Regions from separate parts of the Homo sapiens genome. Here region 2 is linked to region 1. The links come from fine-mapping of genetic effects on gene expression. Tissue or cell type: whole blood. Region 1 holds a variant in brackets; the other region holds the start of a gene. Each region is shown on its reference strand, or each on the opposite one. Region 1 overlaps RREB1 (ras responsive element binding protein 1). Region 2 holds the start of AGAP2 (ArfGAP with GTPase domain, ankyrin repeat and PH domain 2).

What was found.
Region 2: it holds the start of AGAP2, and the variant in region 1 is fine-mapped to the expression of AGAP2 in whole blood (TOPMed, PIP 0.99).

What each region holds. Positions count from the first base shown.
Region 1 is chr6:7,237,939-7,243,306 of GRCh38, reverse strand. RREB1 (ras responsive element binding protein 1) reads right to left here. Exons shown (of 13, transcript NM_001003699.4): 11 at 2,705-2,869. Among named protein-coding and RNA genes, the nearest start is that of SSR1, 73 kb to the left of the region's middle. The variant T/A (reference allele first, on the strand shown) is at 2,963.
Region 2 is chr12:57,736,557-57,741,924 of GRCh38, reverse strand. It overlaps AGAP2 (ArfGAP with GTPase domain, ankyrin repeat and PH domain 2), which reads left to right and starts at 3,183. Exons shown (of 19, transcript NM_001122772.3): 1 at 3,183-4,846. The coding sequence starts at 3,679. RefSeq lists enhancers at 1-24, 558-637 and a silencer at 3,811-4,030.

The DNA.
Region 1 (5,368 bases):
AGTCAGCTCAACAATTAAAGATCTATTGCTTCCTAAAAATTAAATGAGCCTCAACCACTGTGACAGACTACCAACCTAAGTAATTATCTGACCTGGCAGGGGTGCCTTTGCAGGGGAAGCTGCTGTGTCTGCACTCCACCCAAAGCATCTGAGGATGGAGAGGGTTTCCTGAGGTGTAGTCCATGCTGACATGTGGGACTTCTGGGCTGGTAAAGGCGGCCACCATTAAGGGAGAGCTTAAACACTTTCATGTTTATACGAATTAAAAACAGCCCTATGTAGGTGCCTACAAACACAAAGACGGGGCATCATCGGAGGAAGGACCAAGGGCATATCCCTCAAGGGCAGAGGGGGCCAGGCTGCCTCTCTGTCCAGGACAGTGAATGAAGAATTTCAGTTGAAATTTGAATATTCAAAATGGACCTTTAAGGGAGAACTGCCCCCACTGTGGCATTTTTAGCATTCTTTTGGGGGACTTTATGAGACTGAAAAATGTCAGACCTACATTATAAAACATGTGTAGGAATTTTAAGAAAATGCCACCTAGGCATACAAGCCTAGAAAACCCCTCAAGGACCTCCTTGGTCATTTCCTTCCCCCCCCCCCTTTTTTTTAAGTGGTCTTCCTTCAAAGCCTCACTTTTTAAACTTCACTGGGGGGGGGGAACCCAGAATGAAGGCTTCACCCCATGTCCATCATGCTCATCTGCATTTTAAAATCCTCCTTGAAATCACTAAACTCTGCCTCCCTAAACTTTTCCCTCCCACTTAAATCTCAGTCCCTTTTCTCACCATGGACTGTGACCACAACTAAACCAAACATGTATTTTCTCTTTGCTGGTTTCACATTACAACTTTCAGTGACTTTTCTTTTTCTAGAGGCTTTGTCCCTTCAAGGAACCCTATATAACTTCCGGGGTGGGGTGGAGGTGGGAAAGGGCTTTGTTGGGATTTGGACAACAAAACCTATGACTGCAAACTTATAAATACACTTGGTGCTGAACCGAAGCTAAGACCACAAATTCCGACTCAGCTTTGTGTCTGCAGATGTCAGCAGGAGCCCCAGTCTTTGTTCCTCCCTTATGATAAAGAAGCTGAATGCAAAATGCACATCCAGCACGGAGTTACTAAGACTTATTTGTAAACATGGAAACCCAAGGGCTCCCCCTCAGCTCCCTCAGTTACCGGCTGCTTTCGCTACTGTGGAACCACTATGGGAAGATCACAGGGCAGCTTTCTAAACCAGGATGAAAGAAAATGTTCCAGACTAACAGGTAATGTGGCGGCTGATGGTTAAACATTAACAGGATGGTCTGCAGCAAACGCGTGCCTGCCAGCACTGGTGTGCGCTTCCAGTGGGCTGAACTCCAGGTCATCTTTGGCTCACAGGGGTCCAAGTTAGGCTAAGATTCCGTGGGCACCCACATCTTTCTTCACTCAAAGATACTGGTGAGTTATGTGGAAGTGGAAGCTGGGGAAGCAGTGAACAAACCAGCTTACCCTTTCATACCCTCAGAGGATCTGATCTAGACTGGCGGTTGGGCAGTCAAGAGCACTCACAGTTGGTTTCACTAGGGCTCAGTGGGAGGCGTAGAGATGGGCAAAGGGTGGCCTCTCCACTTCAGATACACCCTGTACCCCTGTAACCAAGGTAAGGACAAGGGGCTAAGATTAATGCCCAACCCTCTTCCACACTGACTCCTGAGGCAGGGGTGCCTCGTAACTACAGGGCACCCCATCTCCACCCTAGTCTGAGGAATAGAAGCCACAGGACGCAAATACAACCCTAAAAAAACACAGCTGGGGGGATCTCTTCGCAGCCACAAGATAGTGTCAGGTTTTCAAGACTTGCAAAACTGGACCCAGCACCATGATGCTGTCCCTGTTACTAATCAGTGCCAACTGGCGGGATATCTAAGTGGCCTGCAGCAGGCTGGCTTTCGTTTTGTTTGCTCTTGGGGGTGAGGATGGAGAACCCCAGCAGTCCGAGCGGATGGAGTGTACTGATAGAGGACATGAGTAAATTCAGAAACTATAAGGGAAACAAGGTGGCACAAGACGTATCGGGCAGCCGTTAATTGCTCTGTGGGTGCTGGAGGGAGGAAGCACACATCAGCACAGGAGAATAATACCCGGATTCAGGTCAAGCAGAGATGTGATTAAAGAAAGGACATGCACAGTGCTTTTTCAAACAAGGACAGTCTTACACCGGGAAGAGAGTTATTGAAAAGAAGAACACCGCACCCCTCGTTCCTACAATACCCTGATATCCCAGGGAGCCCAGGCCTGCTCCCGAGGAGGCTGCAGCGGCTAAGGCTCCCCAAACCTTTAGGTTTCACATCCCCTTTAGATGAGTTCATACCCAGGGCTAAAGTTGTAAGCCTTCCCATACATCCCACCTCCCAACATCGGGAACAAAGGCCTCTTCTGCCAAGAGGGTGACAGATCTTCCCTAGCAGCCCCGAGAGTCACCGAGGGGCACTGTCACTGTTTTCTGCTGTCTGTCTAGGCGATCTGACCCAGGAGTTATACTCCCTCCCAATCATCAGCAGGGCCTGCCTTTCTATTAACAGGCTGTGGGCTCTGAATCCTACAGAGAAGTGAACAAGCAGCCCCTCCACAGCTCGGACTGGAGTTTGCTACAATTCTTAACCGAACTCCTCTCTCTCCCTCTTCCTGGGTTCTTGTTCACCTGGCGGCACTACCTGTGCTATCATGGGATCCAACATCACTCTCTTTTGACTGGGGGATAAGCCCGTTTCTTCTCAGGGAACAGGTGGTAACTCCGTGTTTGCGCAACTGGTGGCGTTCACAGTTAGATTTGGTAGAAAAGAAGGCATCGCATTTTTGACAAGGGAAGGGTTTCTGACCTGAAGCAGGAAAAAAAATATATATTTATCTGGCTTTCTACTGCAATGAAATAGAAAAGTCGCTTTTGTTTATTCTCCTGGGATCATTGGCAG[T/A]TGTTCCCCCCTCCTCCATCCCTTCAAGAAAATTAACAAAACACATTAGAAAAAAAAAAACCATCAATGACTAAAATGATCATTCTCCCTTTTCCTAAGTTGAATGGAATATGAATTTTTGTCCTCAAAATACTAAAATAAATGAAACTGAAAAATATACATTTAAAGTAAAACAACGGTATTACAATTAAAATATTAACGACAACAAAAAAAAGCGAATGAAGAGATTTTAGAGCACAGCAAGAAAACACCTATATTCTATCACAAAGAGAAAGACGCCCTCTAACGAGTTCTAGTGTGGCAAGGACACCGTAATATGGACACTAGGAAATCCAATGGGGAACCCCTGGGTATCTTTGGGGGCCCATGAAGAGAAGAAGTCAGGGACAGCCCCCAGCCAGGGTGGCCAGTCCCCCTTCCTGGCCTTGGTGGCTGTGTCCCTCCCACAGGGGAACGGGAGCAGTGAGTTCTGACTTCCCAGGACAACTCCTGTCTGACTTGCCGAGACATCCTGCAGTGACCTCTGTTCAAGTTCACTGTGGTCCTAGGTGGCAACAGTCAGGAGATCTTCTCATTAAAGGTTCTTTGTTCCCCCTGCTCCAAGCTTGGTTGCAAATGAGTGACCAATACGTAACTATGTCTGCATTTGATCATGTGCTCCACTCAACAGATGTGCATGTGAAGAGGACATTTTGGCAGCCCTGCCTCGCCCCTAGACCCATCCCAAACGCACAGATGGGTGAGCCACTGAGAGAGGCACAGTCCCCTCCTGCTTTGGTCTGCCTACCCTCTCCTTTTACTTGGATTCCTTTTGTGCTGTAAACATCATGTTTCAAAATGCAATAGAAGCTCCTCTACAACTTGTCCTGGGTTTGTGCGGATGCATGTGAGGGAGAAAGAAAGCACAAGGGAAAAAGGAGGTGGAGAGGAAAAGAGAGGAGGAGGGAGGGGATCAGGGGCCTTCAGGAGGCGGAAGTTGGTGGTGCATCACTTGTGTATCACTGAATTCCTCCCTTTCCCCCAAGTTGCTGGAGTCCAAGGTCCCAGTTGCTAATGTTACAGGGTAAAAGGTTTTGTGTGTTAACCAACATGACTTCAGAGCTGGGGCCCAGTACTTTTGTCTCATAACCCTAGGATTGCCACAATTAAACACAGCTCCCTGGAAACACAGATCACAGGGGCCTCTGGCGTTAGATTAATGTCGATAGAAGCCTGAACTAGTGCAGGTGCCCAAGGCCACGCACTCCCCTGTGAATGCACAGCAAGGGCCTGGCACCTGGGGACCAGCCAGAGGGGCCACGTGTTTTCCCAGGGGAAGGAGGGACTAGCCTTAACCGGCACTGGCTGTGTCACACGACTCCAGGGGGCGCCATTCATACAGAGCCTGAAGGTGTGGACCTGGCACCGCCCCCATGACAGCATGGCCACAATTTCACATCAGGAGTAATAATCAGAGACAGGGGACATTGATTCCCTCCTGAGCTAAAAGACCCTTTAAGATGATGCTTACAAATCTCCTCAGGCGCTTTTAAGAATAAAGATGCAACAATCAAAGACAACAGAATTAGAAACCCGGAAAGGGCAGAATCAGACACCCAGAAATCCGGCCTGTGTGCTTCTGAGTAGCTCCACAAGGCAACCTGAACAAAAGTGGAGAACCCCACTGACTGTTTTCAGGGTCTCCTCATATCATTCTGCAGGTGTTTTCTGCAAAATTTATTTTTAAAACATCCACATTAAAAAAAAAAAGTGTGACTAGTTGTACAGTATGTCAGTGTTCATGGTGCGTCTTCCAAATTACTTCTTGTGGTCATGTGCGGTGGCTCACGCCTGTAATCCCAACACTGTGGGAGGCCAAGGTGAGCAGATCACTTGAGGCCAGGAGTTCAAGACCAGCCTGGCCAATACGGTGAAACCCCATCTCTACTAAAAATACAAAAATTAGCTAGGCATGGTGGTGCACACCTTAATCCCAGCTACTGGGGAGGCTGAGGTGGGAGGATTGCTTGAGCCTGGGAGGCGGAGGTGGCAGTGAGCAGAGATTGTGCCACTGCACTCTAGCCTGGGCGACAGACAGACTCTGTCTCAAAAATAAAATAAAATGAAAAAAATTACTTATTGTTTTTCATTTAAAATTGAACACAGTATTTAATAATTTCAAGTAAAAATAAAGTACTTTTAACATTTTATTGTCAAAAGGTAACACTGCTGCTTCTCTGAGTCTGGCCAGATTGAGAAAAGAACTGGGCCAAGAGGAAAACAAGTAAGAAGCTACTATGATAGGATTCTTGATTTCAAAGAAAACAATCGGCTTCTCGCTCCCCCCTGTCACATGGTTTACTCTGTAATTTTCACACTGGTAAGTGCGTCACCTTTACAGTTGGTTAGGACTGCCAGGCTGACGTC
Region 2 (5,368 bases), not on the chromosome of region 1:
GACAGCATTCGAGGTAAGAGAAAGGTCAGCCCTCAACTTGGGTGTATCAGGGACTAGCAGGTGCATAGAAGGTTTAGCTGTATCATATATCAATTCCCAGTCAGCTACTTCCTAGTCCCCAAGATGGGACTCTGGGAAAGAATACATTTAGGGAGGATGGAAAAAGACATGGGAGGTATCATTCTTTCTCTTTCCCTGCTCTGATCCTTCTCCCAGGAGATCAAAATACAGGTCCCTGTTGAGCTGACCTTCTTGGCAATGAAGAAATGTGTGAGCATGGGGAAGATAGGCTGTGACAGACTCATGGTAGACTTGTTCCCTGCCTGGGGAGTCCAGAGCAGGAAGCAGTCTGGGGCAGCAGGTTCTGGGACTGGATAATGAGTTCATTCCCAGGACCCACAAAGGATCAGTGACCTCTTGTTCTCCAGCTGTAGAGAGAAACACATGCACACACATACACACACACACACACGCATGCACATTGAAGTACACCATGCAGAGAATCTCAGGCTCCCAAGCGCATACTAACTCTCACACACTATGCTCTGCAGAGCCAAAGTGCAGATAGGTCCCCAGAACTCTTCTTGGTCCCCTCTCCTCCCCTTGCTCCTGTTCCTGTCTTCCCCCCACACACCTTCCGCTCTACCTCCTTAGTGCCATTAGAGCAAGTGATGACAACACAGGGAGGAAATGCTGCCATGGCAACACCATCCGCCACATCCTCCTGCCCACCCCAGGCTTCAGTCCTGTGGTGGAGCCCTGGCAGGAACAGCTTCTCTCCATCCACAAGGCCCTACCACTGAGGAACTGGTGGAACTGGAGGTTGTTCCAGCTCGCTGTCATTCCATTCACCTCTGATGCAGCAAAGAGCTAACAAAAGCAGCCTTCTTTGCTCATGAAAGGTGTCTGGTGGAAACACTTCTTCCATCATATCCTGATCTCTTCCAGCCATTTCAGTCTTCTCCATTGTTACCTGCCTACCTGGGTGGTTGTCAAGAGATCATTCTTTCCCTCAAGGACACCTCCTGCCAGACCTCTCTGCTAGTACACCAGAGTATAACTTGGGGAAGGAACAGCTTGCTTTGGATGCCTAGTGGGACAGTCTGATGATCCCCTTCCCATTGTTCTTCGGAGGCTAGTGCCCCTCTCACCTCCTGTCCCATACCCTTTGCCAGGAACTACACCTGAAGCTTCCCCTGACAGCCTTAGTGTTTGGAAAGGCAGACCAAGGGGGAGTGGGCCATGGGGCCTCCTAGGGAGAAACTCTAAGCCCCACCCCTCTCAAAAATAATAATGATAATAATAATAAAGGAGAAGAGCGGTTTAGGCCAGGCAGAAAAGCTGTGCTTAGCTCTGGAGAGGGAGGAGGGTGAGGAGGGGTGGAGGTGGAAATCCCTGAGAAGGCTTCACTCCTCATAAGTGATTTGTTTTACTCCTTCTCTAAGAATTAGTATTCTGTTCCCATTGAACATAAAGGAAAACCGAGGCCATCAAAGGAGGGAAGTTTAAGCCAGAGCCAACAATTCTCCTTCACCCTCTCCATCAAAAAACACTACTGAAGGGTCTCCTGTCCTGGGGATGGTGTCATCTTGGTTCTGTAGGGAGGGAGGGAGAAACTGCTGAGCCCCAGGACAGAACATTGGAGGGATTGGATACAGGCCTCTGGGAGAACAAAGGGCTCCTGGCATCCTGGCTCAGCCCCCCCACCCTCAGCCCCCCACCAGGCCAAGCACGCTGCGGGCTCCTGCCTCCAAGAGCCGCCCACGGCAGCACTTATTATAGTCTCAGCTGCGTCAGGAGGGTGGGACGCCAAATCAGGGGACTGCTGTGACTCCCCAAGTCCCGGGAAGGGGTCTCCAAGGCTGCAGAGAGACCTTCCTTCGCCCATCTTACCCCACCCCCAAGGGGTCTCAACCTCTTTTCCACTTTGGCCTAACCACTTCAGGATTCTCACCTGGCTGGAGGATAGAGAGCCTTGAACTCCAAGACCCCTAGAGGGGTGGGGGACACGGAGCAGACGGTTTCCATTCACTCTGCCTGCCTCCTCTTTAATCTTCTGAAAGAATCCCACTCAGCAAACCTCAGGAGACTGAAAGGGAACCCTGAAGAGGCCGGCTCTCACTGCCTCAACTGAAGGGTCCTTATACTTGGGGAGTGAAATCCTCCACCTGTGGGTAGCCAGGTGTCAGGGCAGTGCCTCCACTAATTCAGCATCCCGCGGTTGGTCCCCTACCCACCATACACACGGATTCCTCTCTGCTTCTGCCCGCTGTTTCTGAGGCACTCTTGGAGCTACGGTTGCTATGGAGACTGGATGCATTTTGGCATGGGGGGGTATCAGTCTAAGACACATCCTTCTCCCTCCTCCTAGAGCTGGAGCCTTTGACTTACCCTGTGGCCTGGGCTCCTCCAGCACTCAGATCTCTCCCTTCTCTCCTACCCTGCTAAGTTCCATGTTTGTCCCCATCCCTGGGGAACATTTTCCAAGTTCACTTTGGGACAGTCGAGCTCAAGTCTTGGCCCCGTCAAAGTATTAAATGTGGTGGTGTGAGTGGGAAAGGGAGCTGGGTCATGAGAACGGGAACCGTCCAGGTACCTGGGGGAGACAAGAGATCCTGGGGGAAGGGATTTCAGGGCCCCCACTTTCCCACTTCATCTTCCCCAGAATTGGCAGTGACCCTGGGTTTGCTCTGTTTACCGCGGCCCCTGTCCACCCAATAGATCGATTTTCACCCTTATCCCTAAATGCCATACCTCACAATCGCGCTTCCTAACCTTGGTGCGCGAGAGGAGGGGGCTAGGTTGTTGGAGGAGGTGAGTCCAAGTCCCAGGAAATCCAGCCCAGGATTTGGGAGAGAAATCCAGCCCTGGATTTTGCACCGCCCTCGCAGACATCGGTGCTGGTGGAGAAAAGGTGGGGGGGAGATAGGGTGGGGGGGCCTGGGGGCCGCCTCCTCCTCAATGTGAGGGGAGCGCCCGGACACAGCGCGCATCCGGACCAAGCCGAGCCCAGGCGAGGCCCCCGGACTCTTCGCCCGGATCTCACGCCCCTCCCCTCCCAGACCCCAGACCCGTGGGTTCCCACCCACCTCCCGTTCCCTCTTTCCTCCCCCGCCGCCTCCTGTATCTCCATCCCCAGCATCCTCCCCGCGCCCCTGCGAATCCCCCGCACGGCCAGCCCCACTAGCTTCCCACCCTCCTCTAGACCCTCTTTCCGACCGCATCCGCGGCCCCTGTCCCTTGAGTCCCAATTCCCCGCCCCTGCCTCCCCCGCACAGGTTCGTTTCCCCTAGCCTCCGGTCCCCTTTTCTGCTCCCTTTTCCTCTCTCTCCCCCATTTGCCCCCACTACTGTCCTCCCCGCCCTCCCCCACCCATCTCAGCGCCCCCACCCAGGCCGGGGTGGACGGTCCGGCGCGCCTCCCTGGAGCAGCACCAAGGTCCCGGGGCTCCAAGAGGGTGGGGGCGCAGGGCGGGGAGCATGGGGAGGGGGCGCCCCATGTGATGGGAGGGGGGCGCAAGCGGAGGCGGCGGAGGCGGCGGCGACAGCGGAGCCGGGCCGGGGGCTCAGCGGGGTCCGGGGGCTGGGGGCAGCGAGCAGGGCGGCCCCATGGCCGGGCCCCCCTGAGGCAGTCCGGGGGAGTCCCCTCCCCTCCCCAGCTCGGGGGTCTCCGGGCCCCATGAGCCGGGGCGCGGGCGCGCTTCAGCGCCGGACAACGACCTACCTCATCTCGCTGACCCTGGTTAAGCTCGAGTCGGTGCCTCCGCCGCCGCCTTCTCCGTCTGCGGCCGCGGCCGGCGCCGCCGGTGCCAGAGGCTCCGAGACTGGGGATCCTGGCAGCCCCCGAGGCGCGGAGGAGCCGGGCAAGAAGCGGCACGAACGTCTCTTCCACCGGCAGGATGCGCTGTGGATCAGCACGAGCAGCGCGGGCACCGGGGGCGCGGAGCCCCCAGCCCTGTCCCCGGCTCCGGCCAGTCCGGCCCGCCCAGTCTCCCCCGCTCCCGGCCGCCGCCTCTCCCTCTGGGCCGTCCCTCCGGGACCCCCGCTCTCCGGGGGACTGAGCCCCGACCCCAAGCCTGGGGGCGCCCCCACCTCCTCCCGGCGCCCCCTGCTCAGCAGCCCGAGCTGGGGCGGCCCGGAGCCCGAAGGCCGGGCGGGCGGCGGCATCCCTGGCTCATCCTCTCCGCACCCTGGCACCGGCAGCCGGAGGCTCAAGGTGGCGCCTCCTCCGCCGGCTCCCAAGCCTTGCAAGACCGTGACCACGAGTGGAGCCAAAGCCGGCGGGGGCAAGGGCGCGGGTAGCCGCCTGTCATGGCCCGAAAGCGAGGGCAAGCCCAGGGTCAAGGGGTCAAAGAGCAGCGCCGGGACTGGAGCTTCGGTCTCTGCCGCCGCCACCGCCGCCGCCGCCGGGGGAGGGGGCTCTACAGCTTCGACCTCTGGTGGGGTCGGGGCTGGGGCTGGAGCCCGAGGGAAGTTGTCCCCTCGGAAAGGCAAGAGTAAGACCTTGGACAACAGTGACTTGCATCCGGGACCGCCTGCCGGCTCTCCTCCTCCGCTAACCCTCCCACCAACTCCGAGTCCAGCCACTGCTGTCACCGCTGCTTCCGCGCAGCCCCCCGGGCCTGCACCTCCAATCACTCTGGAGCCTCCAGCTCCGGGGCTGAAACGGGGCCGGGAGGGGGGCCGAGCATCCACTCGTGACCGCAAGATGCTCAAGTTTATCAGCGGCATCTTCACCAAGAGCACAGGAGGGCCTCCTGGCTCCGGGCCCCTTCCCGGACCCCCCAGCCTGTCTTCTGGCAGCGGGTCCAGGGAGCTGCTGGGCGCCGAGCTCCGCGCTTCCCCTAGTGAGTTGAGTCAGGGCTTGAGAACAGGGAGGGAAGGGTACCTGGAATGCTCAGCTTGGGGTGGAGGAGCGAGGTCCAGGAAACTAGGGAAGCTTTTCTCTGGGGTGGGCGGATGAACCAAGCTCACCCCTCTGTCAAGGATTGGGGCAAAGAATAGGAGTCCTGAAGCGGGGCGAGTAGCTACATTGTGCGACAGGAGAAAGGACTTGATTTCAGAGGGACTCAGCCTCAGAGCTTTCTGGGAAAGTAACGTCCTTGATCAGAGTGACTAGAAAATTGCTCCCAGAGAAGCCCAGGACCCCACTTCCAGCCTCAGCTGAACTCTGGGAGCATGGAAACGGGGCTTTGCCGTGTTTAGAGCGACGTTGAAGGTGAAGGGGATGAGGAAGCCTCAGTTTCCCCTGAGCACTTGGGGCAGGTGGCATGACAGTGACCTTGCAGGCAGCTTCTCGCCAGGGACTAGTCGTCCCCTGGGCTGAGAGCAGGCTAGTGATGTTTTTCGTGCGGTGAAGGCGGATTGGG